Homo sapiens: one gene and its partners. The protein of the gene in region 3 purifies or fractionates together with the protein of the main gene of each other region. This does not show direct contact. Each region holds a gene or a part of one and is shown on either strand. Other genes may lie near its edges.

Region 1 (4,366 bases), on a different chromosome or scaffold from region 3:
TGTGGGGGAAACCAAGGAACCACACAAGAACTTGCTCTCAAAGGGACTTACAAATCAAAGGCAACTTCCCCTACTCCTCAGCAGCCCCAGGCAATGGTGAGACCAAATGATCTCTCTAGAACCAGCCAGCACTATGTGCATGGAGAGCCAGCATGCTCCTCCACACCAGATTTGCTTAACTTTGTGATAAGATGTTGAGTGGACCGGCCAAGCTCATGAGGTCCCTTCCTGGGCCAGTGGGTCATCTGAGAATGCCCCTTCCCTTCCCTGCCCTCACCCCTCCGTCTCTAGCCTTGGGACATACACAGCTGGAATAAGATAAAAAGTAGACAGTAAGCCCACTGTGAACTCTAAAAGCCCACCTTTGCAGGAACTCCTGGAAAGAAGAGAAGAGGAGGTAATCAATGGCGCTGAAGTCCTCACTACTCTTGTTCAGGCGGAACTGGAGGAAGACCAGCTCCCGCTTTTTCACTTCCCGGGGCCCCTGGACAATCAGGGCAGATTTCTGCAGAGAGAAAAAGGACAGAGTCTCAGTCCTGGGAGAGTACACAGAGGCCTCTGGGTCTGAGGGCAGAAGTACTGACTGGAAAGCCCATAGCTCCTTGCCCAGTGGTCTCCAAAGGGACCACTAGCCAACAACAGGACTGGGCTGGGACTCATGCTCATTCCTGGGGAGTTTTCCCCATATGATGCCCAACCAGAGCTGAATGCAGCTCATCCTCTGTCCACTTTTCTCATTGGTTCTTTGAGTTATGGAAGCTCTTAATTTAGCAAGGATGATCACTTTCATCTGTTATGTGTGCCAATCTTTTCTTCCAGTCTGTCATTTTTCTTTTAACTTTGTTTCCAATGTCATTTGTCCTATGGAAACTTTAAATTTAACGTAGTAAAACCTTAAATCCTTTTCTTTACGGCTTTGGGTTTTGCTTGCTGAGGAAAGCCAAAATTATATCAATATTCTCCTCTATTTCTTTATAGCACTTTTTAATCTTTTTTACATTTAGATACTTTATATACCTGGCTTTAAGCTCTGTATATAGTGTGAAATAGGGCTCTAACTCCTACTTCCCAAACAATGCATAGAGACAGGTTTTGAAGCCTCTTCCCCTCCCTCCTTTATCCTATACTAAATTCCATGCAGAACCAATATCTATGTCTGCTTCTGGCCCTAGCAGAGCCCACACATTTGTCTGTCTCTGTCCAGTACTGTGCCACTTTGATTCCTGTGGTTTTTCCACTGTTCTGAGATCTGGGAAGGTGCTCTCCCTACTACTCTTCCCCATCCCCAAACTTGTCTTGGTTATTTTTGAACGTGTTCTAAGTATGCTTTAAGACTAGCTTGCTTAGTTCCACAAAAAAATTCACTGGGACTTTTAACTGTGATAGAAACTGAATTTATAGATTAATTTTAGAAAAAAATGTCTTTTACATCAACTTTTATAAATAAATGCTCTACAGAGATTTGAAAAAGAGTGAGTACACTGTCAGTTACAAAGTTTTGTGCCCCCACATGTATACACACACATACATACTCTAAATTTATTAACTGCACTATTCAATTCTTATCCTTTCTAGTTTTTGTCTATTTGATCTGTGAATTTCTGAGAGGGGTGTTTAAATCGTGCTCTAAAGTGATGGTATTTTTTACTTCTAACGGGTTTTGCTTAAAATATATAAATGTCATGCTGTTTTGTACATAAAGTTTTGGAACTGTTCAGTCGTCTTAGTGGAGAGTATGGAGTTGAACCTCTTATCAATATTAAACATCCTTCTTGCAAACTTTTGCACGTGGAATTCCACACTATTAATATTGTCACTTCTGGTTTTCGTTGCATCTTCTCAAGACAGCTTTGTCCATCTATTTATTTTTCAACCTTTCTGTACCATTTTGTTTTAAGTGTGCAACAGAAAGCACTGTCCCTGGTTTCTATTATCCATTTCTTCCTTTAGTACTAGAATGGCTTTCCCAACCCAGATTTCAGCAGAATCCACTCCCCCTGCTGGAGCCTCATCTCTGCCCTCAAATGTAGCCACGTGATAAAGTTCCTAATGTGCGAAAGAAAAGGGGACTCATTCAACTCCACCCCATTTCCTGAAAAGGGAACTGCTTGCCCTCCACCTTCCCAGGCCTGGGCATGTGCACAGACACACACACACACACTGCACACACACACACACACACACACACACACACACAGCCCACATGGACCAGAACAATGCCCAGGGGACAGCACAGTGACACACACACACACACACACACACACTGCCCACATGGACCAGAACAATGCCCAGGGGACAGCACAGTGACAAGACAAAAGTCATGGCTGGACTATCCTATGAGGCAGTACTGCCCACTACGCCACACGGCCTGCATGCCAGGACTGTTCTCAGAGAGAGAAGGAGGCTTCTCCCTCATCTCAGCCATTGTATTTGCAGGTTTTGTTTTTATTTGGTAGCTTAGCCTATACTCTGACTAATACACAATTTGTTAGCTGACACTGGAGTGTTCTTGTTTTTTTTTTTTGAGACGGTGTCTCGCTCTGTTGCCCAAGCTGGAGTGCACTGGCGTGATCTCGGCTCACTGCAAGCTCCGCCTCCCGGGTTCAGGCGATTCTCCTGTCTTGCCCTCCCAAGTAGCTGGGACTACAGGCACGTGCCACTACACACGCCTGATTTTTTTATTTTTATTTTTAGTAGAGACGGGGTTTCACCATGTTAGCCAGGATGGTCTCGATCTCCTGACCTCGTGATCCACCTGCCTCGGCCTCCCAAAGTGCTGGATTACAGGCATGAGCCACCACGCCCGGCTGGAGTGTTTTATGGTTGCAAAAAAAATCAAAATGAGGGAACAGCCAAACATTTGGGCAGTGGGAAAATGGCGGGCAGTAAGGAAATAGATAAGGATCCCGCAGGCTGGAAAGGTGGCAAACCTTATTGTGCCAGAGCAGAGCATTTGGTAAAAAATAACTACCATTAAATTGAGAGCATGAAAGAAAGCACCAGAAAATCAGCAAAATTCCGAAGATTTTACAAATACAACAGGATGAGACCCTCGACTGGGGTCACTTTCACATGAACTTGATTAGATGCGAACAGCCAGAAGCCTACACATTTCTGAAATCTCACTGCAAACATAGGCAGTGGCAGGAGGCAGGTAAGAAGCCGCCCTCCAAGTTTGCAATTGTTTAGCCCTAAAGCTGCTCACACAAGCAGGAAGTGAGTGGCACAAGCTGTGCAGCCACCAGGGAGGGCGTATTTTCTAATGTCCACTTCAGATATGGCCACAGAGCATTACCACCAAGGCAGAAGCTCCCAGGGGACGAGGCCAGAGCACACAGGAGTCTCTTTCTGAGGGCAGCAACAGGTTCAAACCAAGGAGCTTACTTCATGCCAAGAAGGCGTCTCACCGGTCCCACCCTGCAGGGTTCCACCACTGCTGCAGAGCAGAGCTGCGGGCCCTTCCCCTTCTTCCTTTTCCAAATGGGAGCTCTACTGCTCTCATCATATTCTTCCTCCACTGCTATATGCTGGTTTGGGTAGGAAACTTGGTGGATAGGGAGGAGATAACTTCTCTGTTAGTTTATAGCTTGTGGACTTCAAGAAATTGATGGAGGAGATGAACCAACACTCAGACTTGGGGGCAGTAGCTGCATTCAACTTCATTTCCATAAAAACAACTCTCTCTTTGTGCCCTTATTTCAAGGGTTTTTACACTCTTTAGTCGAATTATGTAACTATTGTAACAAGTGCAACTGGCCTACACAGGTTTGGAAATGACCCTCACTGACTCCTCCTAAGCATACACTTCAACTGGGGGAGGAGAGGAGGGCATCCAGAGAATAGGCACCTAGTGGGACGGAAGCAGCCACGAGTTTTCATTAGCGTGTTTTACAGAGAGATGAAGGGAGCTGGGAATCCAGACAAAGAGCTTCTATTATACATATAACTCCACATTGGAATTGTTTAAAAGTTGCTTTCCTTTTTGTTTTAATTAGCTTCTACTTCCCTATTCTAGAGTCCATTCTATTTGTTCATCTTGGTCCTTTTCTGTCATTGGTTTCATGCAAATGTCTGGTGACCATTAATTCTCCATTCTTATTTATGAATGAAGGATTAGGTTGACTAGTATAGGTCTGGGTTTTGGTTTCTTCCAAAGTAGTAAATTTCTGTTTCTCTAATAGGCCTCTCCCTTGCATGGGAAAGCTAAGTATGCTCTGTGGAAGCACACTGAGTTTTCCAGTGTGTTTTACTCTGGGAAGAGTCCTTTCCTTTAGTTCTCTCTCCTTTTCCATTGTAGAAGTCTGCTCTGTTTCCTATGCCTACACAAAGAATCATCTTCCCTTCGCTTCTGTAGAGAATGGTTCCA
Region 2 (4,366 bases), on a different chromosome or scaffold from region 3:
AGTGCTGGGATTACAGGCGTGAGCCACCGCGCCCGGCCAATACTGTATGTATTCTTTGAAATTTCCTTTCACTCATCTGAGGCAGATGTTCTTACCGTTGCTGTGATTCATTCTTTTTCCAATTCATTCTGTGCATATTGAACTGTTGAGCCTTTGAATCTGAATAGCCTTTTTTTTTTTTTTTTTGAGACGGAGTCTCGCACTTTCTCGCCCAGGCTGGAGTGCAGTGGCGCGATCTCAGCTCACTGCAAGCTCCGCCTCCTGGGTTCACGCCATTCTCCTGCCTCAGCTTCCTGAGTAGCTGGGACTACAGGCGCCCGCCACCACGCCTGGCTAATTTTTTTTTGTATTTTTAGTAGAGACGGGGTTTCACCGTGTTAGCCAGGATGGTGTCGATCTACTGACCTTGTGATCCGCCCGCCTCGGTCTCCCAAAGTGCTGGGATTACAGGCGTGAGCCACCGCGCCCAGCCCCTGAGTAGCCTTTTTAAAATTCAGTTACAAAAACTGCCGTCAACATTCTTCCACATTCTCTAGGTGCACACAGACAAAAGATTCCCTCCCCGGGAATTTATTTAAGAGTGAAATTACGGTATCATAGGAGGTATATGTGTTTAACTTGACTAAAAATATGAACAAATTTTTCAAAGTGGTTGTGCTGATTTACACTCCTACCAGCAGGGTATAAGCACTTCTGCTGCCCTTTATCTTCACTAACACTTGATATCATGAAACTTGTAGTTTCTTACCGGTTTGGTAAATGTAAAATGCTAGCTCACGGATGTTAATCATGCACTTCTTTGATGACTAATGAGATTGAGCATCTTTTCATATGTTTACTGGCCATTTATGTTTGTTGTTCTTTGAGTGCCCTTTGACAGGTTTCTCCATTTTTCTACTAAGCATTCATCATTTACTTACTGATATGTAAGAGTTCATAATGCATTCTGAATACCAAACTTTTGTCTGTCATGTATGTTGTACATATCGCCAGTTTCTGAACCTTATATTTTCAATCAATGTAGGCTGTGAAAAGACGAAGAAAAAGGCCGAGCGTGGTGGCTCACGCCTGTTGTAATTCCAGCACTTTGGGAGGCCCAGGCGGGCAGATCACCCGGAGTTCGAGACCAGCCTGGCCAACGTGGTGAAACCCCGTCTCTACTAAAAATACAAAAATTAGCTGGGCATGGTGCCAGGCGCCTATGATCCCAACTCCTTGGGAGGCTGAGGCAGGAGAATTGCTTGAACCCAGGAGGCGGAGGTTGCAGTGAGCCAAGATCTCACCATTGCACTCCAGCCCCGGCGACAGAGTGAGACTCTATCTCAAAAGAATAAAACAAAAACAAAAGATGAAGAAAAAGTCTTAACGTAGTTGGACTTATCTCTTACTTTTTGATTTGGAGAGTGAGAGAGAGAGAGAGAGAGAGAGAGAGAGAGTGTGTGTGTGTGTGTGTGTGTGCGCGTGTGTGTGTGAGAAAGAGAAAGATTTAAGAAATTGTTTTCTACTTTAGACTCATAAAAATATTCTATATTGTCTTCTAGAGATATTTTTCATTGTTCTTTTGAATCCGTCTTTAAACCATGTGGAATTGATTTTTTGTGTGTATAGGATATGGGGAGAGATCCAATTCTGTTTTCCCCACATGCAGATAATCACCTGTTCAGCACCATTTATTGTCCATTCCCTTTTTTTCTCAGTGCTCTTTAGTGACCTTGCTGTTGTAAAACAGATTTCAACATCTGTTTCTGGTCTTTCCGTTCTATTCCATGGGCCAGTTTGTCTCTACCCTGGTGCCATTCCATCTTACTGTAGTTATTATAGGTTTATTATTTGTTATGGTGTTACTTATTATTTATTAGTTTAGCTCTTGATATATAAAACAAGTCCCTCTATCTCATTTTTCTTGGGAGCATCTTGACTCTCCTTGGCCCTTTTTGTAACTTGCATCAACATTTGAGTCAGCTTACCATGCCCCACAAAAAAATTCTTTTTAAATTTTGGTTATTAATTGTATTGAATCCACAAATCTGTTGACATTTTATTATGAACCTTCCAGTCCATGAAGTTGGTATTTATATTTTTTAAAGTCCTTTAGTGTCTTTGAATACATTTTTACTAATTTGCTTCATAAAGGGCTGCCTATCTTTGGTTAGATTTATTCATAGGCACTTTTTTAAAATGCTGTTGCAAATGGCTTATTTTTTTATTGCAGTAAAATATACATAGCATAAAATTTATTTTAACCCCTTTTAGGTGTACAGTTCAGTAGCATTAAGTATATTCACATTCTTGGAACCATCACCACTGTCCATCTCCAGAATTCTTCCATTATCCCAAACTTGAAAACTCTCTACCCACTAAACCGTAACTCCCCGTTCTCCCTTTCCTCAAGCTTCTGGCAACCACTGTTCTACTTTCCTTCTCTTTGAATTTGGCACATCTCGATGGAATCACAAATGACATTTTTTTGGTTTTTTGAGATAGGAGTCCCGCTCTGTCACCCAGGCTGGAGTGCAGTGGCGCAACCTCAGCTTACTGCAACCTCTGCCTCCTGGGTTCAAGTGATTCTCTTCCCTCAGCCACCCGAGTAGCTGAGATTACAGGCACACACCACCATGCCTCACTAATTTTTTTGTAATAAATGACATATTTTTAATAATATGTTTTTCTGTCTGTTTTGCAGTGAAGAAATACAATCAGTACTTTATTTAGGAGGTCTCTATCTAACAGCTTTGCTTACTGCTTCTAATAACTTAGCTGTATTTGGGTTTTCAGCATAAACAAGCAGATCACATGTGAATAAAACTATGAAACCCACCTACAGAATTTTAAATTTTAACTTTTTTAAAAATATTTTTTAAAGACAGAGTCTCACTCTGTCGCCTAGGCTGGAGTGCAGTGGCATGATCTCGGCTCACTGCAACCTCCGTCTCCTGAGTTCAAGCCATTCTTCTGCTTCAGCCTCCCAAGTAGCTGAGATTACAGGCGCCCACCACCACGCCCGGCTAATTTTTGTATGTTTAGTAGAGATGGGGTTTCACCAGGTTGGTCAGGGTGGTCTTGAACTCCTGACCTCAGGTGATCCGCCCACCTCAGTCTCCCAAAGTGCTGAGATTACAGGCGTGAGCCACTGCGCCTGGCATATTTTAACTTTTTTTTTTTTAAACAAATACAAATGAGATCTCTCTATGTTGCCTTGGCTGGTCTTGAACTCCTGGCCTCAAGCAGCCCTCTTGTCTTAGCCTCCCAAAGTGTTGGAATTACAGGTGTGAGCTATGGCACCCAGCCCTGTTCAAGCTTCTTTCTTTCCTTTATTATTATTATTATTATTATTATTATTATTATTATTTTTATTTTTTCCAGACAGGGTCTTGTTCTGTTCCCAAGCTGGAGTGCAGTAGTTTGATCATGGTCACTGCAGCTTCGAGCTCCTGGGCTCAAGCATTCCTCCCACCTCAACCTTCCAAGTAGCTAAGGCTACAGGCACAGGCCACAATGCCCAGCTAATTTTTAAATTTTTTTGTAGACAGGATCTCTCTATGTTGCCCAGGCTGGTCTTGAACTCCTGGCCTCAAGCCATCCCCCTGCCTCGCCTTGCCAAAGTGCTTGGGATTATAGGTGTTAGCCACCACACCCAGTTATTTCTTTTAACAGGTCAAGAATTATTTGATGCCCCAATTCTGATATGAACTCATGACTGATTCTGCTGCTCCTGCTAGTTCTTTCTGATGGTGCTTTGTTTTTTTGTGTGTATTTTATGGTTTAAATTATGAACTTATTCTTTGGATGTTTATATATGCCAGATGCTTGGTATCAATTCTAATTTAAGACCACTTAAAATTCTTGACCCAAGGTCTTTGGAACCATTTGATAGAATTTGGGCTATAAACCCATGAGGACTGGTTTGTGGTTATGGCTTTTTGTGTTATTTTGTGCCCCTAGGGCAGGGGGCTTTCACTGGGGTAATTTTTGTAATCCCCTAGGGAGGATTTCTAGCCTACCCATGCATTGAGAGTATATTAGGGTCTTGGTTTTATGAGGAATCTTCTGTTAATTATCCCACCTTCACTAGGCCTTTGTCCAATAATGCTGTGGACCTTAAGCTTAGATTTTTACCTGCTTGGGCAAATACCCTCATGGTGAAAAGCCTTCTTTAGTGCTTCCAGTCACCAGTTCCTCTTCGTCTTGGTTTTTACCTTCTTGCTGGCTTATCAAGGCTTTTTTTTTTTTTTTTTTTTTTTTTTTTGAGACAAAGCCTCACTCTGTTGTGAGGCTGGAGTGCAGTGGCGCGATCTCAGCTCACTGCAACCCTACCTCCTGGGTTTAAGCAATTCTCATGCCTCAGCCTCCCAAGTAGTTGGGATTA
Region 3 (5,824 bases):
GACAGGTCACTCTCAGACTTAGGGCTTTAAGCCACATTTTCTCTACCTTTTTCAACCCATGGACCATTTGCTAAGCAAAAATCTTAGACCCCAGACTGAGAATCATTGCATCTTTTTACCTCCCACAAAGTTAAGAATGTTTTCTTGCTGGGCACGGTGGCTCACGCCTGTAATCCCAGCACTTTGGAAGGCCGAGATGGGTGGATCACCTGAGGTCGGGAGTTTGAGACCAGCCTGGCCAATATGGTGAAACCCCATCTCTACTAAAAAACACAAAAATCAGCTGGGTGTGGTGGCACGCACCTGTAATCCCAGCTACTCAAGAGGCTGAAGCAGGAGAACCGGCTTGAACCTGGGAGGTGGAGGTGGCAGTGAGCCAAGATGGGGCCACTGCGCTCCAGCCTGGGCAAGAAGAGCAAAACTCAGTCTCAAACAAACAAACAAACAAACAAACAAACAAAAAACTAGCTGGGCGTGGTGGTGCACACCTGTAACCCCAGCTACTCAGGAGGCTGAGGCAGAAGAATCGCTTGAACCCGGGAAGCAGAGGTTGCAGTGAGCTGAGATCACAACACTGCACTCCAGCCTGGGCTACAGAGCAAAACTCTGTCTCAAAAAATAATAATAATAATAATAAAATAAAGAAGCTGGGCACAGTGGCTTACGCCTATAATCCCAGCACTTTGGGAGGCCGAGGAGGGAGGATCACAAGGTCAGGAGATCAAGATCATCCTGGCTAACACAGTGAAACCCCATCTCTACTAAAAATACAAAAAATTAGCCGGGCGTTGTAGCGGGCACCTGTAATCACAGCTACGCGGAAGGCTGAGGCAGGAGAATGGCATGAACCCAGGAGGCGGAGCTTGCAGGGAGCCAAGATCGCGCCACTGCACTCCAGCCTGGGCAATAGAGTGAGACTCCATCTCAAAAAATAAATAAATAAAAAACAAAAAAATAAAATAAAATAAAACACACACACACACACACACACACACACACACACACACACACACAAACAAAGAGCTACTCCACGCTACGTATTTTGTGCTGCATTCTTTACATCCATCATCTCACTGAATCATTAGAATTTTGTGAGGTTGGCTGGGGTGGCTCATGCCTGTAATCCCAGCACTTTGGAAGGCTGAGGCGGGCGGATCACCTGAAGTCAGGACTTCCAGACTGGCCTGGTCAACATGGTGAAACCCCGTCTCTACTAAAAATACAAAAATTAGCCAGTGTGGTGGCACGTGCCTGTAATCCCAGCTACTTGGGAGGCTGAGGCAGGAGAATCGCCTGAATCCAGGAGGCAGAGGTTGCAGTGAGCCTAGATCGCGCCACTGCACTTCAGTCTGGGTGACAGAGCGAGACTCTGCCACAAAAAAAAAAAAAAAAAAAAAAAAGACAAACAAAAAAAAAGGATTATGTGAAGTTGATGCCACCCACCTTCCCCCCAGCCTCACCTCTGGTTTCCAATGAGGAAACTGAATCTCAGACAAGCTAAGTCAGGAGTCCAAAGTCACACAGCTGGTACTTGGTAGAGTCAGACTTTGTGCTCAGTACAATGCTTTTGCTAAATTTGACATGCAGCAGGAAGTAGCAAGCCCCAGCAGACCACAGAGTACTGGGCAGCTTTCCCCTGGACCTTGGGAGATACTCCCCTCCCTGCCAGGGTACCCCATTGCCCCTTCCCAAGGCCAGGAAATAAGTGGCTTGATCACACCTAGCCTGGACCCCAAGACCCGGCAGGGTCCTCCCCCACTTCCAGCTCCAAGCCCAAGGATGCCTTCAAGGTCTCCCGGGACCTCAAGCGGAAGGAACACACAAGCCAGGACAGACCCTGTCTCCCTGGGATGGCCGCCAAAGTCACTGGGCCAGCAGAAGAAACAGCTTCTCCCCAGTGAGTGGGAAGGACTGAGGAGCCTGTCAGTCTCGCTCTAGGGCTGGTGGGGGTGTGTGAGAGGGCAGGGCAGGCTAAGGAAGCTTCCAGGTTGTCAGGGGTAGAGACATCTGCCCAGGAGGCTGTGAATTGAGCTACGTGAGCTGCAGTGGTCAGGACCTAGGTTAATACTGTAAGCCACGTCCCCCTACCCTTCACCCCAACCCCAGGCTGGCTCAGGTCTCAGAAAGAGGGAAGACAAGAACATCAGAGGGCCAGCAGCTACTATTTCCCAAGCTCTTATTCCAGGCCAGATCCAGAACAGGCTCTCCACGACAGGCTTTGGGTCCAGTCCTCTCAGAACCCTCGCAATGGCCAATGTTTATCTCAAGGATGGGGAAACGCGGAGGCTCTGAGATGAGGCAGCCTGCCTGAGGTCACCGAGTACTAAGCGGCCAAGCTCTGGGGGATCTCAAGGCTGTGGCAGGGTTTCCCAGCTTCTGCCTGCTACAACTGCCACTGCTCCTTCCAGGCCACAACTGTAGGACTTCTGGGCCCCCAAGTGAGAAGCCCACATGGTGTTAAAGATGAGCCTGAACAAATAAACGCTACAGGGGTGACTGAGGCCCACTGTTTGCGGGAGAGTCCAGAGCAGCCCCTGCTGTCCCCACTGGGAGGCAGAGCCTGCAGGTGCGAGGTAACATCACCAGCCCCCAAGCCTGCTTCACTCCAGGGATGGATCCAAATCCAGTCAACCCACACTGTGTCCGTCCCCCTGGCACCCTGTCCGTCCTCCAGGGCCTAAGCTGAGACCCCTCCACCTCCTCTCCACAATGAAAAGCCCACGGCAAGGTCCCCTACCAAATGGACACTTCTACTGCTGTGTAGGGCCTGGCCCCACTTGGGCAGCCATCTCTTGTGCCCTACAATCTTAGGCGGACACCTCCTCATTCCACCGTCACCACAGCACTTACAGCACCCTCAGCCTGGGTGCCTAAGCATATCATCCTACGCGCCTCCTCCCCTGCGCTAGACCACCCCACTAATGACTCTGGCCTGTGCACTCACTCATTCCGTCTGGACCCCAACAACGTCCCCGACTCCCTTGAGCCACTCTGCCCAGTCTCCTATTCACCCCATGCCGGACCCCTCAATAGTCCCACCATGCCGGGCACCGGGCATCCCCGCGTTGGACCTCAGCAATATCCCCGTCTTCAGAAATTGCTCACTCCACCCCAGGCATCTTGGGCAGCCCCTTCTTCTCTTGCCCCCACCCCGGAATATCATTGAAACTCACCCAGGTACCCTCTGGCGCCGCTCACGGCCCGCACGCCTGCTCCTTCCATCCCGGGTGCTCTCCCCGCCTCGGATCGGGTACCTGCGCGCCTGCTCCAATCCCCGCCACGTTCCAGGCCCGGGCATCACCTCCCTGACCCAAGTACCTTCTCGTTCCGCTCCCAAGCAAGGCACCCTCTCGCACCGTCCCCGGCCCGGGTACCCACTCATTCCAACCCCGACACCTTCCTGGTCCTGTTGGGCCCGGACACCTGCGCCTACTCGGTCCTCCGCTCAAGTCCCGGCCCTGCCGCGCTGCCCGCCCGCCTTGGGGGCTCGGCCGGGGCCGATACTCACCCGGGATGCCATCGCTGCGGAAGGGCAGCGTCTCCTTCCCCGGCGGCTGCGCAACCAAACCGGCCGCCCGGGGGCGTGGCCTAGCGCCAAGCCCCCACCCTCTTCTGGCCAATGAGCATCGCTGAGTCTCTCAGGGCCGCCGCAGCCTCTGGCCAATTAGGCGGGTCATGTGACCAAGCTTATATTCCGCCTCTCCCGCCCTCTTCCCCTCCTCCTAGTGCGGTTGAAGCGCGAAAGTGGTCTCTTCTCTTCTACTATTGGTCATTCAGATTAGATCGACATGGGCGGCTGGGTGGGGCGGGGCCATTCTTAAAGGGGCTGAAGCGGAGCAGTCAGACCTCCAAGGGGCTTTCTTGGAGTACGCCAAAGCAGGCTGAGCCCTCGTATTAGGATCCTCTATTCTTGTTCCACACAAGGACAAATCCTTCCCACTCTCCAAGCGCCCATTTTCAAATACTACCGCCCCTGACTTCCCGCAGCATGCTCTTATACTGTCGCCACTCTCCCCCTTGTTCTGGAGTTGTTTGCAAAAGTGCCAGGTCTCGCCGCTAGACAGTGTCTCTCTGAGAGCTGGAGTCAAGGGGTCTTCAGTTCTGGCCACCTATCTGGGTCTTACACTAAATACCAGGATTGAGATCAGGCCGACCTGAGATAGAATCAAGTGTTGCCACTTCAGCTCTCTAGAGCTTACCCCTCTATGAAATAGGGATGAGGCCGGGCGCGGTGGCTCACGCCTGTAATCCTAGCAGTTTGGGAGGCCGAGGTGGGTGGATCACGAGGTCAGGAGTTCGAGACCAGCCTGGCCAACCTGGTGAAACCCTGTCTCCACTAAAGATTAAAAAAAAAAATTAGCCAAGCTTGGTAGCACACACCTGTAATCCCAGCTACTCAGGAGGCTGAGGCAGGAGAATCTCTTGAACCCGGGAGGCAGAGGTTGCAGTGAGCTGAGATCCACCCATTGCACTCCAACCTGGGCCAAAGGGCGAGACTCCGTCTCAAAAAGAAAAAAAGAAATAGGGATAAAATCTTCCCTTTCCCAAATCATAGGGCTTTGGTGAGGATGGAAAGAGGACGGTGTATCAGCCCTTCCATAACTGCGAAGAGCTGGGCACAACTACGTTTTAAAATTGTAATCGTCGGCCGGTAGCAGTGGCTCATGCCTCTATTCCCAGCACTTTGGGAGGCTGAGGTGAGTGGATCACATGAGGTCAGGAGTTCGAGACCAGCCTGGCCAAAATGGTGAAAACCGGTCTCTACTAAAAATAAAAAAGCTAGCTGGGCGTGGTGGCACACACCTATAATCCCAGCTACTTGGGAGGCTGAGGCAGGAGAATTGCTTGAGCCGGGAGGAGGAGATTGCAGTTAACCAAGATCACGCCACTGCACTCCAGCCTGGGCAACAGAGCCAGACTCCATCTCAAAAAAAAAAAAAAAAAAAAAGCCCGGGAGCAGTGGCTCACGCCTGTAATCCCAGCACTTTGAGAGGCCAAGGCAGGTGGATCATGAGGTCAGGAGATCGAGACAATCCTGCCCAACATGGTGAAACCCCATCTTTACTAAAAATATAAAAATTAGCCCAGCATTGTGGCGTGTGCCTGTAGTCCCAGCTATTCAGGAGGCTGAGGCAGCAGAATCGCTTGAAACTGGGAGGTGGAGGTTGCAGTGAGCCGAGATTGCGCCACTGCACTCCAACCTGGGTGACAGAGCAAGACTCCATTTCAAAAAAAAAAAAAAAGGAAAATTACAATTGTCGGTAAAGCCACATTCCTTCATTCATTCAACTAATTAAGTGTGCCAATCCTTTGGCTGGACATGGGAGCTCAGTGGTGGACAAGAGACAGGTATGTGGTGGCACCAGGGAGCTCATTGTCTGGGGAGCAGATACTTAATCACAATCCCCTGTGATGGTTACTCTAATGGGGGAATGTGGGATACCAAGGAGATACCTGGGCTTGCCTGGGGAGGTGAAGGGCTCCAGAAAGAAAAGGGGTCCAAGGCCGGATGTGGTGGCTCACGCCTGTAATCCCAGCACTTTGAGAGGCCGAGGCGGGCAGATCACCAGGTCAGGAGTTCGAGACCAGCCAGACCAACATGATGAAATTAGCCAGGGGTGGTGGCATGCGCCTGTAATCCCAGCTACTCAGGAGGCTGAGGCAGGAGAATCATCTCTTGAACCCGGGAGGCGGAGGTTGCAGTGAGCCGAGATGGCGCCACTGCATTCCGAGACTCCGTGGGGAGGGGAGGGAAGGGGAAGGCAAGGGAGGGGACGGGAGGGGAGGGTGGTCCAAACAGCGGATGCCCAGTGCCCGGCATGGT

Evidence for each region.
Region 1: the proteins of MIGA2 (region 3) and PACC1 purify together in Homo sapiens (co-immunoprecipitation; one large-scale study listed by IntAct). This does not show direct contact.
Region 2: the proteins of MIGA2 (region 3) and KCMF1 purify together in Homo sapiens (affinity purification with mass spectrometry; one large-scale study listed by BioGRID and IntAct). This does not show direct contact.

Annotation. Positions count from the first base shown.
Region 1 is NC_000001.11:212,379,533-212,383,898, forward strand, and holds part of PACC1 (proton-activated chloride channel), read right to left. Parts: intron 506-4,366; coding exon 363-505; intron 1-362. UniProt on the Homo sapiens protein: Chloride channel gated by pH that facilitates the entry of chloride ions into cells upon exposure to extracellular acidic pH. Involved in acidosis-induced cell death by mediating chloride influx and subsequent cell swelling.
Region 2 is NC_000002.12:85,023,149-85,027,514, forward strand, and holds part of KCMF1 (E3 ubiquitin-protein ligase KCMF1), read left to right. Parts: intron 1-4,366. UniProt on the Homo sapiens protein: E3 ubiquitin-protein ligase which accepts ubiquitin from an E2 ubiquitin-conjugating enzyme and then transfers it to targeted substrates, promoting their degradation by the proteasome.
Region 3 is NC_000009.12:129,034,366-129,040,189, reverse strand, and holds the start of MIGA2 (mitoguardin 2), read right to left. Parts: upstream 3,565-5,824; 5' UTR 3,509-3,564; intron 3,257-3,508; exon of another isoform or gene 3,223-3,256; coding exon of another isoform or gene 3,174-3,222; intron 1-3,173. UniProt on the Homo sapiens protein: Regulator of mitochondrial fusion: acts by forming homo- and heterodimers at the mitochondrial outer membrane and facilitating the formation of PLD6/MitoPLD dimers. May act by regulating phospholipid metabolism via PLD6/MitoPLD.